Linked DNA regions of Homo sapiens. The main gene of each other region encodes a partner of the protein of the gene in region 3 in a complex. Each region holds a gene or a part of one and is shown on either strand. Other genes may lie near its edges. The genes, in order: UBE2G2, VCP and AMFR. A codon is read from its position in the direction of its gene.

Region 1 (2,926 bases), on a different chromosome or scaffold from region 3:
TGGTTTAGGCAGAACACTCACATCCCTGCTGAGAGTCTGGAATTGTAGCGCAGCCCAGGCAGAAGCTGCTCACGTGACCAGCCCCCGGGTACATCACCAGGCAGGGCATCCCCAACATCGCACACGCAGAGTCCCAGCTGCTTGCAGGGGAGTGAGGCGCATCCTGCGTGACCCCCACCCCAGGAGAGGCCTCCAAAGCTGAGCATGGTGCCCCTGGACTCGGCCCCAGGAACCTTTCCCTTGGCCGATTTTGCTCAGTGTCCTCCCTGTGGGAAATCACAGCCGTGACTACCGTGACCTGCATGGCCTCTGTCCTCCTGGAGAATCGCCGCCCTGGGTGGTCTTGGGGACCCCAACTCAGTATCACATTAGAGTTCTTACCCATTAAAAAGAATGCTTAGTGAGAACACTGGGCAAAGGGCAGAACAGACATGCCTGGGGGCCTGTGCTGAGGCACTCGCCCAGTGCACCCCACCAGGAGCAGCCTGGGAACCAGCCCAGGGAACGAGGCGCCAGCACCTGGGGAAGCCTGGGGACCCTGCCTCACAGGATTACAAAGGAAAGCTGACCGCCAACTACCAAAACAGAAACAGCAAATCACTGACACAGGAATCTGCCTCTTTATTGACATGCTAAGTAACAAGACGCAGAGGCAGGTCTCATCGCAACCAACCGTGACCACAGAGGACCACAGAGGAGTGATGACAGGGAGCTGTGCTTCTAAGCAACTGCAGGAGGGAAGCGCAGTCGGAACAGCCTGCTGGCTTCTAGTGGTCAAATGTGCCACTCACACAATGGCATCTGCTGAAAAAGCTGCAAAATGTCATTTATAGGTTAGTGAACACATCCGTCTCACAGACCCCAACTAACCTGAGAATTCCAGAGGAAGACCACAGAATGACAGAAGGGAGATCAGAAACAGAAGAAAACATGCCAGAGCTAACCCAAGTCTGCAGAAAAGCCCCCACCGTGAGGAATCCCAGCTGGGATGATCTGGTGTGCTCCCTGGGGGCAGTGGCCACAGGCTCCTCTGACAATACGACAAAGGGACACACACTGCAGGGCAGGGAAAACACAGAACTTTATTTCAACAGTCATTAGGTTCCACCACACAACAGGGACACCATGGGATTGTTTTTTCATTTAATAAATACAAATGAATAAAAATACTTTATTTTGTCAAGAGACTGCCTCTCCTCCCTCTCCCGATCTCACAGAAGCCTCCAGGCAATTGTGTGCCCCTCCAGGGCCTGCACCCACAGACCCCGTCTACTTGCACAAATGACTCTTCTTTACAGAGAGGGCTCCATCTCATTTGCCTGCAAATACAACATAGGTATAATACCGCTCCTTTCCCCCATCTCCTTCCAAATACGAGTTCTTGCCCTGCGTTCCATTTTTTTTTTTTTTTTTTTTGAGACAGAGTCTCACTCTGTTGCCCAGGCTGGAGTGCAGTGGCGTGATCTCAGCTCACTGCAAGCTCCGCCTCCTGGGTTCACGCCATTCTCCTGCCTCAGTCTTCAGAGTAGCTGGGACTACAGGCGCCCGCCACCACGCCCGGCTAATTTTTTGTATTTTTAGTGGAGACAGGGTTTCACTGTTAGCCAGGATGGTCGCGATCTCCTGACCTCATGATCCGCCCGCCTCAGTCTCCCAAAGTGCTGGGATTGCAGGCGTGAGCCACAGCACCCAGCCTCCAAATTTTAAATGAGCCCCTTGTGAGAAGGAAAAGAATCTGCTGTCCACAGAAGCCAGGCGTGGAGCTACTTCAACCAGAAACTGTCACCCATGACACTCTGTGTGGGTTCAGTCACACAGACCACGATCCATTATGGAAGGGAGGGAGAAAAGGATCACATCAAATCTACTGTATGCCTCATAGACCATCCCTTATTTCAAAAATAGAAATTCCTATTTAAATGCCGCCCGTGTGCGACAGGCCTGATATTTGCTTCTGCATGTGGCAGATCTGTTATTGCTTACACTGTGGCCTCCTGGCCTGTGCTGCTCAGCTGGCCCTGTTAGAGAACATGGGAACCACATCAAAATCCTAAGTCACAAAACAAGGGCTCTGTCCCCAGCCTGGGCCCAGGGGCCCACATGCCCACCTCCACAGCCCAGTCAAGTGTGGGGATAAGGCACTCCTCTGTGCTCTGAGCTAAGATATGGTAGAGTCCCTTCTGAATTTTGAGTTGCAAAGAATGATTTTGTGCTAATAAATTCCCAGTGCATCCAAAATGTACAAAAACCCTAGAATTTCCAGTTTTTAGATTGAAAAAAAAAAATTTTTTCTGTAGATCCAGAAGAAACTTTCATTGAAACTTTAAAGACCTCACCTGCACCTGCTCTAGTAATGCACTAGTTACTAATATACAAACGTAAATCTTTGATGAGTATGGTCGGGAAAAAACTGTCTGTCCTTGTGATCAGCAATAAATTTCTTTTTTCTTTTTGAGACTGAGTCTCGCTCTGTTGCCCAGGCTGGAGTGCAGTGGCGGGACTTCAGCTCACTGCTACCTCTGCCTCCCGGGTTCAAGCGATTCTCCTGCCTCAGCCTCCTGAGTAGCTGAGACTACAGGCGTGCACCACCACGCCCAGCTAATTTTTTGTAATTTTAGCAGACATGGGGTTTCACTGTATTAGCCAGGATGGTCTCAATTTCCTGACCTTGTGATCTACCTGCCTTGGCCTCCCAAAGAGCTGGGATTACAGGCACGAACCACCGCACCTGGCCAATCAGCAATAAATTTCTTTTCTATTTACCCCATTTCTTATTAATTCACACTTCAAAAAAGCATTTCCTGGAAGTATTTCTAAGTGTGATGGTTTGTAATATATAACAAATGAAAAGATGTAATTAGATTATAAGAAAAGCATCTGCCTGTAAAATATGAAGGAAGAAAGGAAGTAATGGACTCCTCATGGG
Region 2 (7,185 bases), on a different chromosome or scaffold from region 3:
GGCTAGAGCAAGAGAGATGGCACACCAGATGGCACACCACTAAACAGCATTCTCCAAGAGCCAGTGATCAAAGTTCATTTGCCCCAAACCCTCTCAAATCACTAACCATTCACCCTTTGATTTCTCATTCTAGCTTGCTCCCGCTCTGCAGTCTGTCCACAATCTTTCTCAAAGGGGGCAGGACAGGGAGCACCAATGTAAAATATCTTCCCTTTATTGCTCTTCTGTCTGTAACATACCCCAGCATAAGAAATATGCTATAAACATGAAGGAGGGCATGGGTGCAAAAAGGATGTGTTCATAAGTGCTCCAGCTCATAAGCCCAGTTCAAAATTGGGTCTAGCTAGACATAAGATGAACCAAATATCTCACCATTGATCAAGAAGAAGAAGGCTCCAGTCTCATTTGCTACAGCTCGAGCAATCAGGGTCTTTCCTGTTCCAGGAGGTCCGTAAAGCAGGATTCCTCTAGGAGGCTGTGGACCAATGCAGAGTGTGATTAGGTTCCCACCTTCTCCCAAACCCTAAAATGGCTTGACTAGCGCTCCAGAGAGGGTGAGAATCAGGCTTCAACCCTGACAATATTAAGAATAAGCCCTCCGCAGTAAATGCTAAGAAGACAATTACTTTAGGCCACACTCATTTCTATTACTAGCAGGGAAAATACTGCTAGAAAGTGGGCAACATTTATGATTGCAACTTGCATAGGAGACTAAGGGCAGAGAAACTGTAGTCCAAATGCGTTTGAAGATACATGACTAGGGAAAGGCAAGAGGCCATTACACTAAGGGCTCAATTTTAGACAGACCAAGGGCCAAAGACTAGCTAAGCCATTTAAGAGAGCAGGGTCTATTTTCTTCATTGCCAGAGGATCACTCACTCCAGTAATCATGCCCTCCAGAATTTATCACACTGGAATGCTGTTCCTTACAATCATCATTTTTCTTCTTCAACACTACCCTTTCTATGGCCTCATCCACAAGCAGAACATGTAAACTGTCCACATAGAAAATGAAATTATTTGTGTGCCACCCACTAGGAAAATGAGTAACTTCATCTTCAGTGTGTTCCATGGAAACACTTTCCCACTAGGAAAAGATTGAGAAGCTACACTCTAGACCAATAGTTCTCAAATGTTTTAGACTCAGAACCCTTTAACACTCTGAAAATTTCCTTAACTTCCTTACTTCTACTGGGTGACATTGCTCTAGACAGGCTGGCAAACTATGGTGAGATTTGTTTTTACAGGGTCCATTGATACAAGAATGGCTTTTATATTCTAAGAGTTGTAAAGAAAAACCCATATATATATGTGTGTGTGTTTTGTGCGCACACGCACACAACAGACAATTTGATTAGCCTACTCTGGTTTTAGACCATCAGCTCTAATGAATTTAGAGCCTTAGGTAAACTAAAGGATACGTTATTGCCCCTCTAATCCAAGGCAATAATGAAAGCCATGCATGAAAACAGTCCCAGGATTAGACATTGGGACAGGATTAGACATTGGCACCACTTTAGACTTGATTCCAGAGCCCAGGATGCTCACCTTCACACCAATTGCCTTAAAGAGGGCAGGATGTCTCAGGGGCAGTTCCACCATCTCCTTTATCTGAGCTAGCTGCTTCCTGCAGCCACCAATGTCATCATACCCTACTTCATTCAAGGACTCTTCCTCATCCTGAATATGGAGGAGATAAAGAAAGGAGAAGGCAAGAATATTATATCAGCAAAAGCTGAGTTTCTCTAAATCATTCCACTACCTAGTGTGCAAAAACCTACCGTATAAGAAGATTCTCAACCCGGCATGGTGGCTCACATCTGTAATCCCAGCACTTTGGGAGGCAGAGGTGGGAGGAATGCTTGAGTCCAGGAGTTCCTGGGCAATACAGCAAGACTCCATCTCATTAAAAATTAAATTAAATTTAAAAAAGATTCTCCTCTAAAGGGATCCGGCCTCAAAGAACAACTACAAAAATCCCAAGGCAAAGATTTCTAGCACAGTCCTTGCCTCTCACATTACTCGTAGTCTTACTGAGAAGGGGTCTCTAAAATCTGAAGCTGGAAACCCTGGGAATGGGCAGAGGCCTGAAGCCACCATCAGCTTTACTTCAAAAATGATTTCAATCACTTATATATTTTGGGTTCAGTCTAGTTTTTTGAAATTCCTGGCATTAGGTAAATCCAAGAAACAATTAGGCCCAGAAATGAATAGCTGGCAGGTTTCTCATCCCTGAAAGATGGTTAGTTCTCCAAAGAACACCCAGTCTTTTTCTTTTTTGAGACAGAGTCTCACTCTGTCACCCAGGCTGGAGTGCAGTGGCACAATCTCAGCTCACTGCAACCTCCGACTCCTGGGTTCAACCGATTCTCCTGCCTCAGCCTCCTGAGTAGCTGGGATTACAGATGTGTACCACCATGCCTGGCTAATTTTTGTATTTTTAGTAGAGATGGGATTTCACCATGTTGCCCAGGCTGGTCTTGAACACCTGACCTCAAGTGATCTGCCCATCTCAGTCTCCCAAAGTACTGGGATTACAGGTGTCAGCCACCGCAGCCGGCCGAGCACCCAGTCCTGACAGTTACCACATGATGCCACACTGAGTAATCATAAAATCGGATACTGGAATCAGGGAGAAAACTCACCTCTCGTTTGATAGGCTCCCCTTCGCAGTGGATCACTGTGTCTGGAGCAACAATGCAATAAGGGCTAGGATCTGTTTCCACCACTTTGAACTCCACAGCACGCATCCCACCACGGACAAGAAAAATGTCTCCTGCGAGAGCAAACAGTACAAGCACAGTTAGAGGTGTCAACTACAAGACAAAGTGAGAACTCATCAGACCCTGGGGTCAAAATGCCAAGCTCATTAGATAGTGCCCTTCATTAGATATTGCCCTACCTCTCCCCAACTCCACCCCACCTGTCTTAATAAGCAGCAGGCAAGATGAGAAAGGTAAACTGTGAAGAGTCCCTCTGACAAGAGGTCAGTGAACAAAACCTGACATGTCAGAAGCCCATCAAGTTCTGACTTCTGCCATATAGGTAGCCCAAGTTTTCACTACAACCACCAATGGTAGAACTGTGCACTCTGGACCCTGACCCAGCCAAAATGGACCACTTTCTCCTTCAGAGATCCATAAAGATAGCTTACTCTCCTGGAACAGAGAAGGGGAGAGATGGAGCAAAGGAAGGATGGAGGAAAAAAAGAGGGTAAGACATATGAATATGTGTGCAGGGTTTGCATGTGTGTGTATACAAATATATGAAAATGAGTCTAGCGGCCGGGCACAGTGGCTCACCTGAGGTCAAGAGTTCGAGACGAGCCTGACCAACATGGTGAAACCCCGTCTCTACTAAAAACACAAAAATTAGCCGGGCGTGGTGGCAGACGCCTGTAATCCCAGCTACTTGGGAGGCTGAGGCAGGAGAATTGCTTGAACCCAGGAGGCGGAGGTTGCAGTGAGCCGAGATTGCACCACTGCGCTCCAGCCTGGGGGACAGCGCGACACTCTGTCTCAAAAAAAAAAGAAAAGAAAATGAGACTAGGCTTGATGGCTCATGCCTGTAATCCCAGCACTTTGGGAGGCCATGGCAGATGGATCACTTGAGCCCAGCAGTTTGAGACCAGCCTGGGCATCATAGTGAGACCCTGTCTCTTTTTTTTTTTTTTTGAGACAGAGTCTTGCTCTGTCACCCAGGCTGCAGTACTGTGGCCCAATCTTGGCTCACTGCAACCTCCACCTCTTGGGTTCAAGCAATTCTCATGCCTCAGCCTCCCAGGTAGCTGGGATTACAGGTGCCCACGATGGGGTTTCGCCATGTTGGCCAGGCTGGTCTCAAACTCCTGGCCTCAAGTGATCCACCCGCCTCAGCCTCCCAAATTGCTGGGATTATAGGTGTGAGCCACGGTGCCCAGCTGACCCCATCTCTTAAAAAATGAATAAATAAATACAGGGGAAAAGCATAAAAGATTTAAAAAAAAAAAAAGAAAAAGAAAATGAGATAAAGATGTTCCAAGGTTTATTCCCTACAGTCAATAATCCTTAAGCTCAGAATTAGCTCTCACCTTTCCGGATGGGTCGATACGCTTCCAGGAAGTACGGCTTAAGGTATACCTCGAAGAGATTACCAGTAATGCCTTCCACTGTGTCATCAATGGGCAGCACATGGATACGTTTGCCGTACTTCACATCAGGGCATGGCTGGATGCTGAGGATGACAAGCAGACTCCATATTACCAACCACACTTCGGGCCCAAGCACTGGGTGTCCAAAAGGGCCTGGCACAGATAGCTGATAGTAAGTGAAAAAGAAAAGGCAGGATGGCTTTAGGCGAAGAGAGGAAGGAGAACAGGGTGGAAGTGAGGGCGAAGGAACAGCCCCACTCACTCCTAATCAGTGAGCCAAAATCAAGAGCCACACATTTAGAAACCCCACAAAGACATGCAGGGTCTTCAGGGAGATATCCAAGGATGATCCCCTTCTAGCTAATACTGGTGACCCAATATTACAAGGGAAGGTCTTAAGCTAACAATTGTCAGGGTCAGTGAAACAGAAGTGAAAAAAACAAAATTATCTCAGCCAGGTGGTCAGAACACCTTGAGGAAGTGACTAAGCACTCCCAAGAAGAAAGCTACATGAAACTTAGACTCCATTCAAAAGAATCAAAAGCCTGAGATGATCCTGGCCAGGTGATGGTTGGTTGGGTAGGAGTGGCTAGAGATGACTCCAAGATGGGGTAACCTCTTGCCTAAAATTATGCAAGAACAAGCAAAATCACTCACATTGAGAGCTATCCCAGGTCTGGCTCCAACTATTCCTCTCTCCCGGGTTAACTTAGGGGCTTAAAAGACCTGCTAGCAGCTCACCTTCCATGCCCATACCCCCACCTCATTCCAACCCCAACACAAGCCATCAATTAGACATACTAGTGAGAGTAGTGAGGAGATTATTTGGCATATACATACACACCCTCGAGTGGTATCCTAAGCCAGGATATAAGTATGATAAATTACACCTCTAGTAGGAAAAAATAAAGCCATCAAGAAAGTTACAGGAACGCCAATTTGTCTCAAGGGACCTGCAGAAATGGATTTTGAAGTCCCAGGGAGGCAGAACCAAAACCTAAAGACAACCCTGAAGCATAAGTCTTCCCATGACCAGGAGGCTTCCTGCATCGACAGGTGCCAAGAACTTGGTCCTGCCTGTAATACATGGGTCCTGCCTGTAATGCAGGCTATCTCTGGCCTCCCATCCCTGTGAAGCCAAAAACCCCACACACACCTGATGACATCCCCTAGGCGTACACGAAGGTTATTCCGAACAACTCTATTCATCCGAATCTTCTCATCAGAACAAGTATCATCAGAAAGGACGATGCAAACAGCTTCTCGTCTCTTCTTTCCTTTCAGCAACACTGTGTCACCTCGGAACAACTGCAATTCATCCATCTTGGGCTGAGGAAAGAAAGTTAAGGCCTTTGGGTCATTGGGCTGACGGGGAGTAAGCAGCAGCCCTGGAGATTGGGATTCCCAGTAAACCCCACTCTATCTGCAGTCACTGCAAGAAAAATGAGAAAAGAAACCTGGGAAAATCCCTCAAGTAAGTGCAGTAAGGAAAGACTAGTCTGTGGCCACAGCTTACCTGGGACAAGGACACCACACTGTTGTCCTCATTGATGGCTTCATCAACAATTAACCGATTGGGACGGTTCTTCTGTTTGAGAATGGCTGTTGATAGGTCATCACCTTTTGAACTAGAAGGAGGAAATGGAGTCAGTAGATACTCCTGCCCCAAGCGCCTCGCCAGTCTCTAAAACTCATACTTAGGAAAGAAACAGTGAATAGATGAAGCTGTCCCTAGACCAGAAAGCTCAGATGAAGGAAAGGCAGCCAAGGTCACGAGGAGCAGTATCTACCATACATATTACAATACCCATTCCAGCAGCTCCTGGTATTTTGAGCGTCAGTGTCCCAGCTATAAGGCCCCAAGTGAGTGATCCTGCCCCAGGGTCAGAAAATAATGGCCTAAGAAGAAGACATAATAGAAATGGAGGCTGAATAGTTGTTAGAGAAATAAAAATAGTCTTAGACTTACAGAAGAGTGGTTAAGAGCAGGAACTCTATAGTCAGACCCATTGGGTCTGAATTCCAATTATGCCACTGCTTAATTGTGATCTTGGGCAAGTTACCTAACCTCTGAACTTTGATGTCCTCCTCTATAAAAGAAGGAATATAATACTTATCTCAGAGGCTTATTGTCTTAAGGGAGATAATGAATGTAAAATGCTTAACATAATACCTGGCACATGGTATTAATGGTCACCATGATTAACAGTATAGAGTAAAGCATAAGCTAACTTTCCAGGGAATTAAGTAAGCCAGACAACCTCCCTTGAGGCTCAGGGAGGCCTTAAGTTCTACCAAGCAAGCCTGGGGACAACGAAGCAGAATCATTGGTGCTACCCTCCTTATAGGCTAAACCTACTGATGCCAGGGCATTCCATAGTACCAAAGGAATGCCAAGCATAAAGACCATCATATTTGGAAAAAACACTAACAGACATCAAACCGCCAGAAAGAGGCTCAAGGTCAAAAGGAACTTCACAGTAATATCTGCAAAAGTACACAATTCCATAAAGTTGGCTCAAAAAATCAAAACCAAGAAATGCTGAGACATGGGGCAAATCCAAATCCCTCTCACCCAAATCAAAGTCGACTGGGTCTACACTCAGTGTTATTTCCTAGAAGCTAGGATCATTCACCAGACAGTGACACCAACTTATTACCTAGCCCGTTTCCAGCTGTCACTTACTAGACTCAGCAAGCTCCCTCTCCCTTTTTTTTTTTTTTTTTTTTTTTTTGAGATGGAGTTTCGCTTTTGTTGTCCAGGCTGGAATGCAATGCTGCGATCTCAGCTAACTGCAACCTCCACCTCCCGGGTTCAAGTGATTCTCCTGCCTCAGCCTCCCGAGTAGCTGGGATTACAGGCATGCGCCACCACACCTGGCTAATTTTGCATTTTTACTAGAGATGGGGTTTCACCATGGTGGTCAGGCTGGTCTCGAACTCCTGACCTCAGGTGATCTGCCCACCTCGGCCTCCCAAAGTACTGGGATTACAGGCGTGAGCCACAGCACCCAGCGCTCTCTCTTTTTTAAGAGCGGCCTCGTGTTAGTAAGGCT
Region 3 (7,000 bases):
GGGAAGAGGCTAAGGAACAAAGAAGGATACCCAAGAGCTTCCCAGAACACTCAGTGCCAGCAGCAAGGCCAGGCTGAGGTAATGTCCCCACTCCTCCACTAGGATGAGTCTCGAGCCTGGGTACACAAAGCACACACACGCCCTGGACAGAACACCTGTCCCACATGGCCCTTCACAAAGCTCCTACTTGTGGAAAAGATGTCCACAGGGCAGTTTCCGCGCAGCCTGCATGGAGTCCCAACAGATGGCACAGTCGTCATTGTTGACAGCCAGCTCCTCTGGAGTTGCAACTGCAAACCTGTGGAAACAAAACAAGCCCAGCAGGAACCTCAGTCAGTTCCACACGCACACTAAACACCACTTGATAGACTGCGCCTGTATCACAACACAGTTACAGAGAAAGCATGTTCAGCAAAACATTCTTGATAATCAAAAATATAATTTACCTTCAAAGCCCTTTCAAAAGTGAGTAACTTATGCACAGGAACTTTGTCTAAATAATGGTTGCTAGGCCGAGCGCGGTGGCTTATACCTGTAATCCCAGCACTTTCGGAGGCCGAGGTAGGGGGATCATGAGGTCAGGAGTTCAAGACCAGCCTAACCAACATGGTGAAACCCCGTCTCTACTAAAAATGCAAAAATTAGCCGGGCGTGGTGACAGGCGCCTGCAATCCCAGCTACTCAGGAGGCTGAGGCAGGAGACTTACTTCAACCTGGGAGGCGGAGGTTGCAGTGAGCTGAGATTGTGCCACTGCACTCCAGCCTGGGTGAGTGAGACTCCATCTCCAAAATAATAATAATAATAATAATAATGGCTGCTGTTAGTGAAGACCTCGGAGACCATATCCGGACAAATCAGAGGAGTAAGGCCCCCAGAGATCCAATCTGTGTCCCTGGCCACAAAGAAGAGATCCAAGCTGTCCCCCTGGGTGCAAAGAGGATACCCATTAATCTTGCACCTCCAGGCGTGGCTTAGCCCCAGCTTGGCAAAAAAGTGCCTCCTTCAATGAGGTTAAGTATGTGTGTGTAAACATGCATGTGCAAAGAACTGAGACCCACTTTCAGGAAATGAACAGGGTAGAAGCCCAATGAAGTGTCTATTTGATAATAATGACAATAAAATCATGACAAATAAGAGCCTAATACTGAGCACTATCTGCCCAGTACCATTCTAAGTACATGAATTATCTCACCAAATTCTCCCAATAGTTCAGGCAGAAGGTTCTGTTTTCATCCCTAATTTAGAGGTGAAGTAAATTGCCCCAAATCACACAGCACCTAAGTGGGGATTCACACCCGGGCAGTCTGACTCCAGAGCCTTTCCTCTCCACCACTCTATTAGCAGTTTACAAACATACATTCTGACATACTCTGGGATCTGCTGTTATTAAAAAACTAAAATGAGTAAACTTAGGCAACATCAACTTGTGCTTCCTTACCTGGCCTCCATGTTTCCAACCACACGTAGATAGTTCTTGTGCCGACGAATTCGACGTTGCACCTCATGAAACAGGTAACGCAGCTGCATAAAGATGACCAGGCTGGCCATGGATAACCAGATGTTGCCAAATAACTTAGAGAGAAAGAGAATAAAACACACGGTAAAAGCGAACGTGAACTTGCTAGTGATGAAGGCGCAGTATGCAGCGGAAGCTCTTCACTGTTGGTGATGGTGAACTGCAATGTCTTTCAGAAAGGAAATACACAGATTTATCTCATTACTCTAAACAATGCACATCCTCGTCAGCCTAGGTGCTCCAATGCCAGTCATCTTTCCTGAGAAACTCATCAGAAATGGAAAAGCTTTATGCAAAAAGATGTCTATCCATGCAATTATAAAACAGAAAATATGAAAATGAACAAAATGCCCAGAAGAACAGTTAGGTTGTAAACTCATGTAATGTAAAATTATATAGTCATTAATTTCACTTATTATACTATATAACTACATATTACTATTATATTTGTATATATAACAGTTCTGAAGGTCAATTATGGGAAGATAGTACTAGATAAATGAAAAAAGCAAGATATAACTATCTTTATCAAACTAATACATGATAAAAAATATGTAAAATGTGAAATAGCAAACAACCAAATATAATCTAAATAACCCATTGTGGGATGCGGTTTATTAAATCATGGTACAGCTATCTGATGATATTTTTATCCTGAAAGTATTAAAATGGCTTAGAAGAACTGATGTTAGCACAGGAAAATGTTCATAATACATTAGTTTTTAAAGAACAGAACTATATGTCTAAAATATGATCTCAATTTATGAATGTATGTACTCAAATACATAAAAAGAATCAGTTAAATACAAAATACATAAAAATACAAAATACATAAATACAAAAAATACATAAAAAGAAGCAGTTAAATACAAAAAATACAAGCATGAGGAAAAAAAATTTAAAAAAAGAAGATAAAAAATCTTAACAGTTATCTTTGGCCATTTGTTTGTCCCCTTTTTGAGGGGGGAGGGAGGCTTTTTTTTTTTTTTTGGGACGGAGTGTCACCCTGTCGCCCAGGATAGAGTACAGTGGCGCGATCTCAGCTCACTGCAACCTCCATTTCCCAGGTTCAAGCAATTCTCTGCCTCAGCCTCCCCAGTAGCTGGGATTACAGGCATGAGCCACCGCGTCCAGCCGAGGCTCTTTTTTAAAAAAAAGAATTACATACTTTCTTTAAAAAGTATGTTTTCAAAGTTTCTTTCAAAAAGTAGACTTAGAAATGTGCCACGTCTAGCCCAATAATTTTAAAATGCTACTTGCTAGGCTTATAATTTAAATAAATTGCCCACCAACTATTTTAATTCTCACCATTATTAGATCACTGAAGGGCCAACCAATGAAGCAGATCTACGACACCGTAACGTCTAACATACCAAAGTAAAATGTAAACAATGATGGTAGTAGGAATGTAGGAATTAAGTGTAAAGACTTTTTTTAATTACAAAGATGGAAAATGTATAAATCTGTGAAGTAGCTAACACTGCAGGAATTCCCATTACCACCTACAAAGTACCTGCTAAATATTTAAAGCCATAGAAACTATGGGGAAAGGCAGCTCCTTAATTTCATGCTAAAAGAATAATCTATTGACTTGGTCAGCAGAGTTAACTAAGTCTCCCAGGACAGCAAACACCTCCTGAGTTAGGCACCAGCCAAAGCAGTTCCATGGCACTGCCTTACACCCAGTGGCAAAAAGAGGGAGGGTTTGCAGCCACATTCATTTTTAGTCTTTAAGTAGTCCATCCACATCTTATTTCTAAAGTTTCATTTTTTAATGAAGAAACCATTACTGTTCCTGATTCTGAAAGGCTTGCCCTCTGTTAGAGCTCCTTCTGAGGAAACTTACCAACATGTGAATATGGTGCATGAGGTCCAGGGACAGGAGAGTGAGCTCCATGACAAAGTCTGTGTAATAGACATACGTCCCCTTTCCTTCCCACGTCCCTTCGTGGTTGAGGTCCCAGAGGTGAATTACGTATCTGTAATGAAGAGAGAAAACACCTTAGTAATTTACTGTTACTACTGAATTTGGTTTAACCATGTTGTAATTTAGTCCGATTTTTATATATTTCATACCTGCTACATCTTAAAATCAACTGTATGAGTAGGCCTCCATCACCTCCCTCCCCAATTTCACTCACCGTAAAATCACATGAGCAGTCCTCACTGTCACAAGAAGAGACTATAAAAAAGGATATTTTCTTTTTAGTAAAATGTAGCATTGCTCAGGCCAAACTTTTTATAAAATGATAAAAGACAAACATTTCTCAGTTCAATTAAAAAGCAGATTGTTCAAGTTTACCCATTATTTTATTTTCTCTGCTTCAAATTTCTGTAAAATATTTTTATGACCTAGAAACCCAACTTTTATTGAGGAAAAGTCCTGTTAATAGGTGACAACCAATTACACCTACCCCCCAGGAATCCCCCTACAATCTTGAGGTTTACCCTGGTAGTCTGACCATCAATTCTATTTCACACAGCATTAAGTCACTATCACTGATTACTTAGAAGGGTGATGCTGTAACTCCAAGTATAGTTCAGGTACTGCTATCCTAGACACGAGGACCTGCTCTCTCCCTAGTGCTTTGTGCACTCCCTTTGTCCACCAGCAGAAAAAAGAACGAAAGCAATCAAAAGCAAAATAAGGCCAGCCACATCACACCTTTAATCCCAGCACTTTGGGAGACCGAGGCAGGAGGATTGCTCAAGCTTAGGAGTTCAAAACCAGCCTGGGCAACATGGTGAAACCCCATCTCTACAAAAAATACAAAAATTAGGTGGGCATGGTGGCACGTGCCAGTAGTCCCAGCTACTTGGGAGGCAGAGGTGGAAGGATGGATTGAACCTGGGAGGTGGAGGCTGCAGTAAGCAGAGATCGCACCACAGCACTCCAGCCTGGGTGAGAGAGCCAGACCCCAGACCCTGTCAGAAGGGAAGGGGAAGGGGAAGAAGTGGAAGGGGAGAGGGGAGAGGGGAGGGGGGAGGGGAGGAGAGGGGAGAGAGAGGAGGGGGAGGGGGGAGAGGGGGGAGAGGGGGAGAGGGGGGAGGGGAGGGGGGAGAGGGGAGAGAGGAGAGGAGAGAGGAGAGGAGAGAGGAGAGGGGAGGAGAGGAGAGGGACAAAATAAGTCTCTCATGGCTTTTTTTTTTTTTTTTGTAGAGACAAGGTCTTGCTATGTTGGCTAGGCTGGTCTTGAAGGGTATTTTTTTTATTACAGAAATTGACGGCCAGGTACAGTGGCTCACACCTGTAATCCCAGCACTTTGGGAGGTCGAGGCAGGCCGACTGCTTGATCTCAGGAGTTCAAGACCAGCCTGGTAACATGGCAAAACCCCATCTCTACAAAAAAATCAAAAATTAGCCAGGCATGGTGGTTCATGCCTGTGGTCCCAGCTACTAAGGAAATGAGAGGATCACTTGAGCCCACAAGGTGGAAGTTGCAGTAAGCAACTGCACTCCAGCCCGGGCAACAGAGTGACACCTTGTCTCAAAAAAAAAAAAAAAAAAAAGATATTTTTCATTAAGAAAAAAAGTCCTCTTAATCTAGTAGAATAAAACTATTACATTATTTATGTTTTAGATTAAATTCCCATTTGTAAGTGAAAAATATTTTACAGGAGAGAGAAACACTATGAATGTAAGAAATGATTTAGTTTAAAATATCAAATCTGTAATATGATAAATTATCTTAAAAGAATAAACAGTAACAAGCTAAAATAAAAGTATATACTATAGTATGAGCTGACGGGCCTAAGTTAAATGTGCTTATTTTTAGGTATACCCTTTTCAAAGTTTGGATAATATTATATTAGTTGAAAGTTAGAGAATCAAAAAAAGGCAAACATAAGTATCATTCTAACTTTGCAATAAATCTAAAGCAAATAAGTCAGTGTAAATGGATTTTTCAACAGATTTTCTGTCAAGACGAAATACGGTTGTATATTTTTCATATACAGAAGTATTCACCTAAGATTACATATCTTATTATTTATATTAGGACTATTGTATTTTAATTACAATATTATAATATGATAATTAACATTATGTATTTAAATGTTTCTTTTCTAATTTTACTTACACTACTAAATGTACTCAAAAATGAATGCTATCAAACAGAAATAAACTTTAACTCTGCTCTACCAAATTCCCAATGAGTAGTTCAAATGTAGTGTTTTGATATTAGCCAATTAGCTTCAGTTTATCTAATATCTCATTTTTTAATTAATAATACTAATTATGGGTAAGATAAAAGTATTTTGCCTTTGGCCTGAAGAAAAGGCAAATATAGCCATTAAATATAAGGACATACAAACAATTTTTATTTCTTTTTTTTTTTGAGATGGAGTCTCGCTCTGTCACCCAGGCTGGAGTGCAGTGGCGCAATGTCTGCTCACTGCAACCTCCGCCTCCCGGGTTCAAGCAATTCTCCTGCCTCAGCTTCCCAAGCAGGTGGGACTACAGACGTGCGCCACCACGCCCAACTAATTTTTTTTTTGTATTTTTAGTAGAGACAGGGTTTCACCATATTGGCCAGGCTGGAGAATTTTTATTTCTACTGAACAGAAATTGGTATTTTCAGAAAGGTTTAAAAGAGTGAAAAATTTTTAAATCTTAAAATATTCATGAATAGACCAGATTTTTCCTTCAAAATGATGAGTACAGTTTATTCATTATTTTGTAAAATCTTTATACCCTACGTAAAGAAAGAGTTACATAAAATACCACACAAAAGCATTCAGTACCAGTACCCAACACACAAAAAGGAACTGAAATGCTTGTTAAAATGAAAGACCAAATATCCACCTGTCATTTCATGGGTGAAAATAACTTGTCAAACATCCAGCTTCCTTGAAAACAGACAGAAATACAATCTGAGCAAGTCCTGCATCCAGTATCTCACCTCTGCAGCCATGAAAGCCAAGGTGTGCATTCCGTGGGTGTAGCCGGTGATGGAGCAGACGGCCGCCAGTCCACAGCAGGAAAGCAGCATGGCAACCAACAGGGACAGGACTCGACCGTGGCTGCTCATCGGCGTGGTGGGCGAGAAGGAAAGCTGAAATGCACACAGTAGGAAACTGCTCATTCTTCTTCATGGAAGTGTTAAACTTCACTGAGAAATTCAAGGTCAATCTTGGCTTCTCTGCTTAGGGTTCTGTGCTAAGCACAGAAAAGCATCCCATTACTATATGGTCCTATTCTCCAATAACCCAAATATGAGCATGAGGTGATATTTAGAGATCCGTGTCATTTAATTTACTGAGTATAACAATATGCATTATATTTTCATCCCTTACTCTCAAAGATCCTCCTAGCACTGGGATTATAAACCTCTAGAAGCAATGTTCCGAGGGTATACAACTCTCTCCTCTCACCTTCAACAGGACTCAGGACAGTGCCTGTTCTGTTCTGTTTCTTTCTCAATCTTGCTCTAGTCCTCCTCTCTGAAATTGGCATTCCTAGTCTATTAGGGCTAGCACAATTG

What was found.
Region 1: the proteins of AMFR (region 3) and UBE2G2 are in contact, whole or in part, in an NMR structure (PDB 2LXP), measured with the Homo sapiens proteins. Residues at the interface, in NP_001135.3 of Homo sapiens: Ser574, Ala575, Arg578, Gln579, Met581, Leu582, Arg585, Lys586, Leu589, Leu590, Ala593, Arg594, Arg596, Phe597, Leu598, Lys600; in NP_003334.2 of Homo sapiens: Tyr13, Leu16, Thr17, Pro20, Gly23, Ile24, Val25, Ala26, Gly27, Pro28, Met29, Asn30, Glu31, Glu38, Leu40, Met42, Glu45, Glu50, Phe51, Val53, Val159, Gln160, Leu163, Gly164, Leu165.
Region 2: the proteins of AMFR (region 3) and VCP are in contact, whole or in part, in a crystal structure (PDB 3TIW), measured with the Homo sapiens proteins. Residues at the interface, in NP_001135.3 of Homo sapiens: Arg625, Arg626, Arg627, Met628, Leu629, Ala630, Ala631, Ala632, Ala633, Glu634, Arg635, Arg636, Leu637; in NP_009057.1 of Homo sapiens: Asn33 (codon at 5,678), Asp35 (codon at 5,672), Ser37 (codon at 5,666), Val38 (codon at 5,663), Phe52 (codon at 5,434), Arg53 (codon at 5,431), Gly54 (codon at 5,428), Asp55 (codon at 5,425), Thr56 (codon at 5,422), Ile70 (codon at 5,380), Leu72 (codon at 5,374), Pro106 (codon at 4,199), Val108 (codon at 4,193), Lys109 (codon at 4,190), Tyr110 (codon at 4,187), Glu141 (codon at 4,094), Ala142 (codon at 4,091), Tyr143 (codon at 4,088), Arg144 (codon at 4,085), Ile175 (codon at 2,699).

What each region holds. Positions count from the first base shown.
Region 1 is NC_000021.9:44,767,983-44,770,908, forward strand, and holds the end of UBE2G2 (ubiquitin-conjugating enzyme E2 G2), read right to left. Parts: 3' UTR 598-2,926; downstream 1-597. UniProt on the Homo sapiens protein: Accepts ubiquitin from the E1 complex and catalyzes its covalent attachment to other proteins. In vitro catalyzes 'Lys-48'-linked polyubiquitination. Involved in endoplasmic reticulum-associated degradation (ERAD).
Region 2 is NC_000009.12:35,062,606-35,069,790, forward strand, and holds part of VCP (transitional endoplasmic reticulum ATPase), read right to left. Parts: intron 5,758-7,185; coding exon 5,646-5,757; intron 5,459-5,645; coding exon 5,286-5,458; intron 4,213-5,285; coding exon 4,070-4,212; intron 2,777-4,069; coding exon 2,646-2,776; intron 1,681-2,645; coding exon 1,549-1,680; intron 476-1,548; coding exon 373-475; intron 1-372. UniProt on the Homo sapiens protein: Necessary for the fragmentation of Golgi stacks during mitosis and for their reassembly after mitosis. Involved in the formation of the transitional endoplasmic reticulum (tER).
Region 3 is NC_000016.10:56,401,546-56,408,545, forward strand, and holds part of AMFR (E3 ubiquitin-protein ligase AMFR), read right to left. Parts: intron 6,572-7,000; coding exon 6,419-6,571; intron 3,700-6,418; coding exon 3,659-3,699; intron 3,497-3,658; coding exon 3,364-3,496; intron 1,574-3,363; coding exon 1,440-1,573; intron 299-1,439; coding exon 188-298; intron 1-187. UniProt on the Homo sapiens protein: E3 ubiquitin-protein ligase that mediates the polyubiquitination of lysine and cysteine residues on target proteins, such as CD3D, CYP3A4, CFTR, INSIG1, SOAT2/ACAT2 and APOB for proteasomal degradation.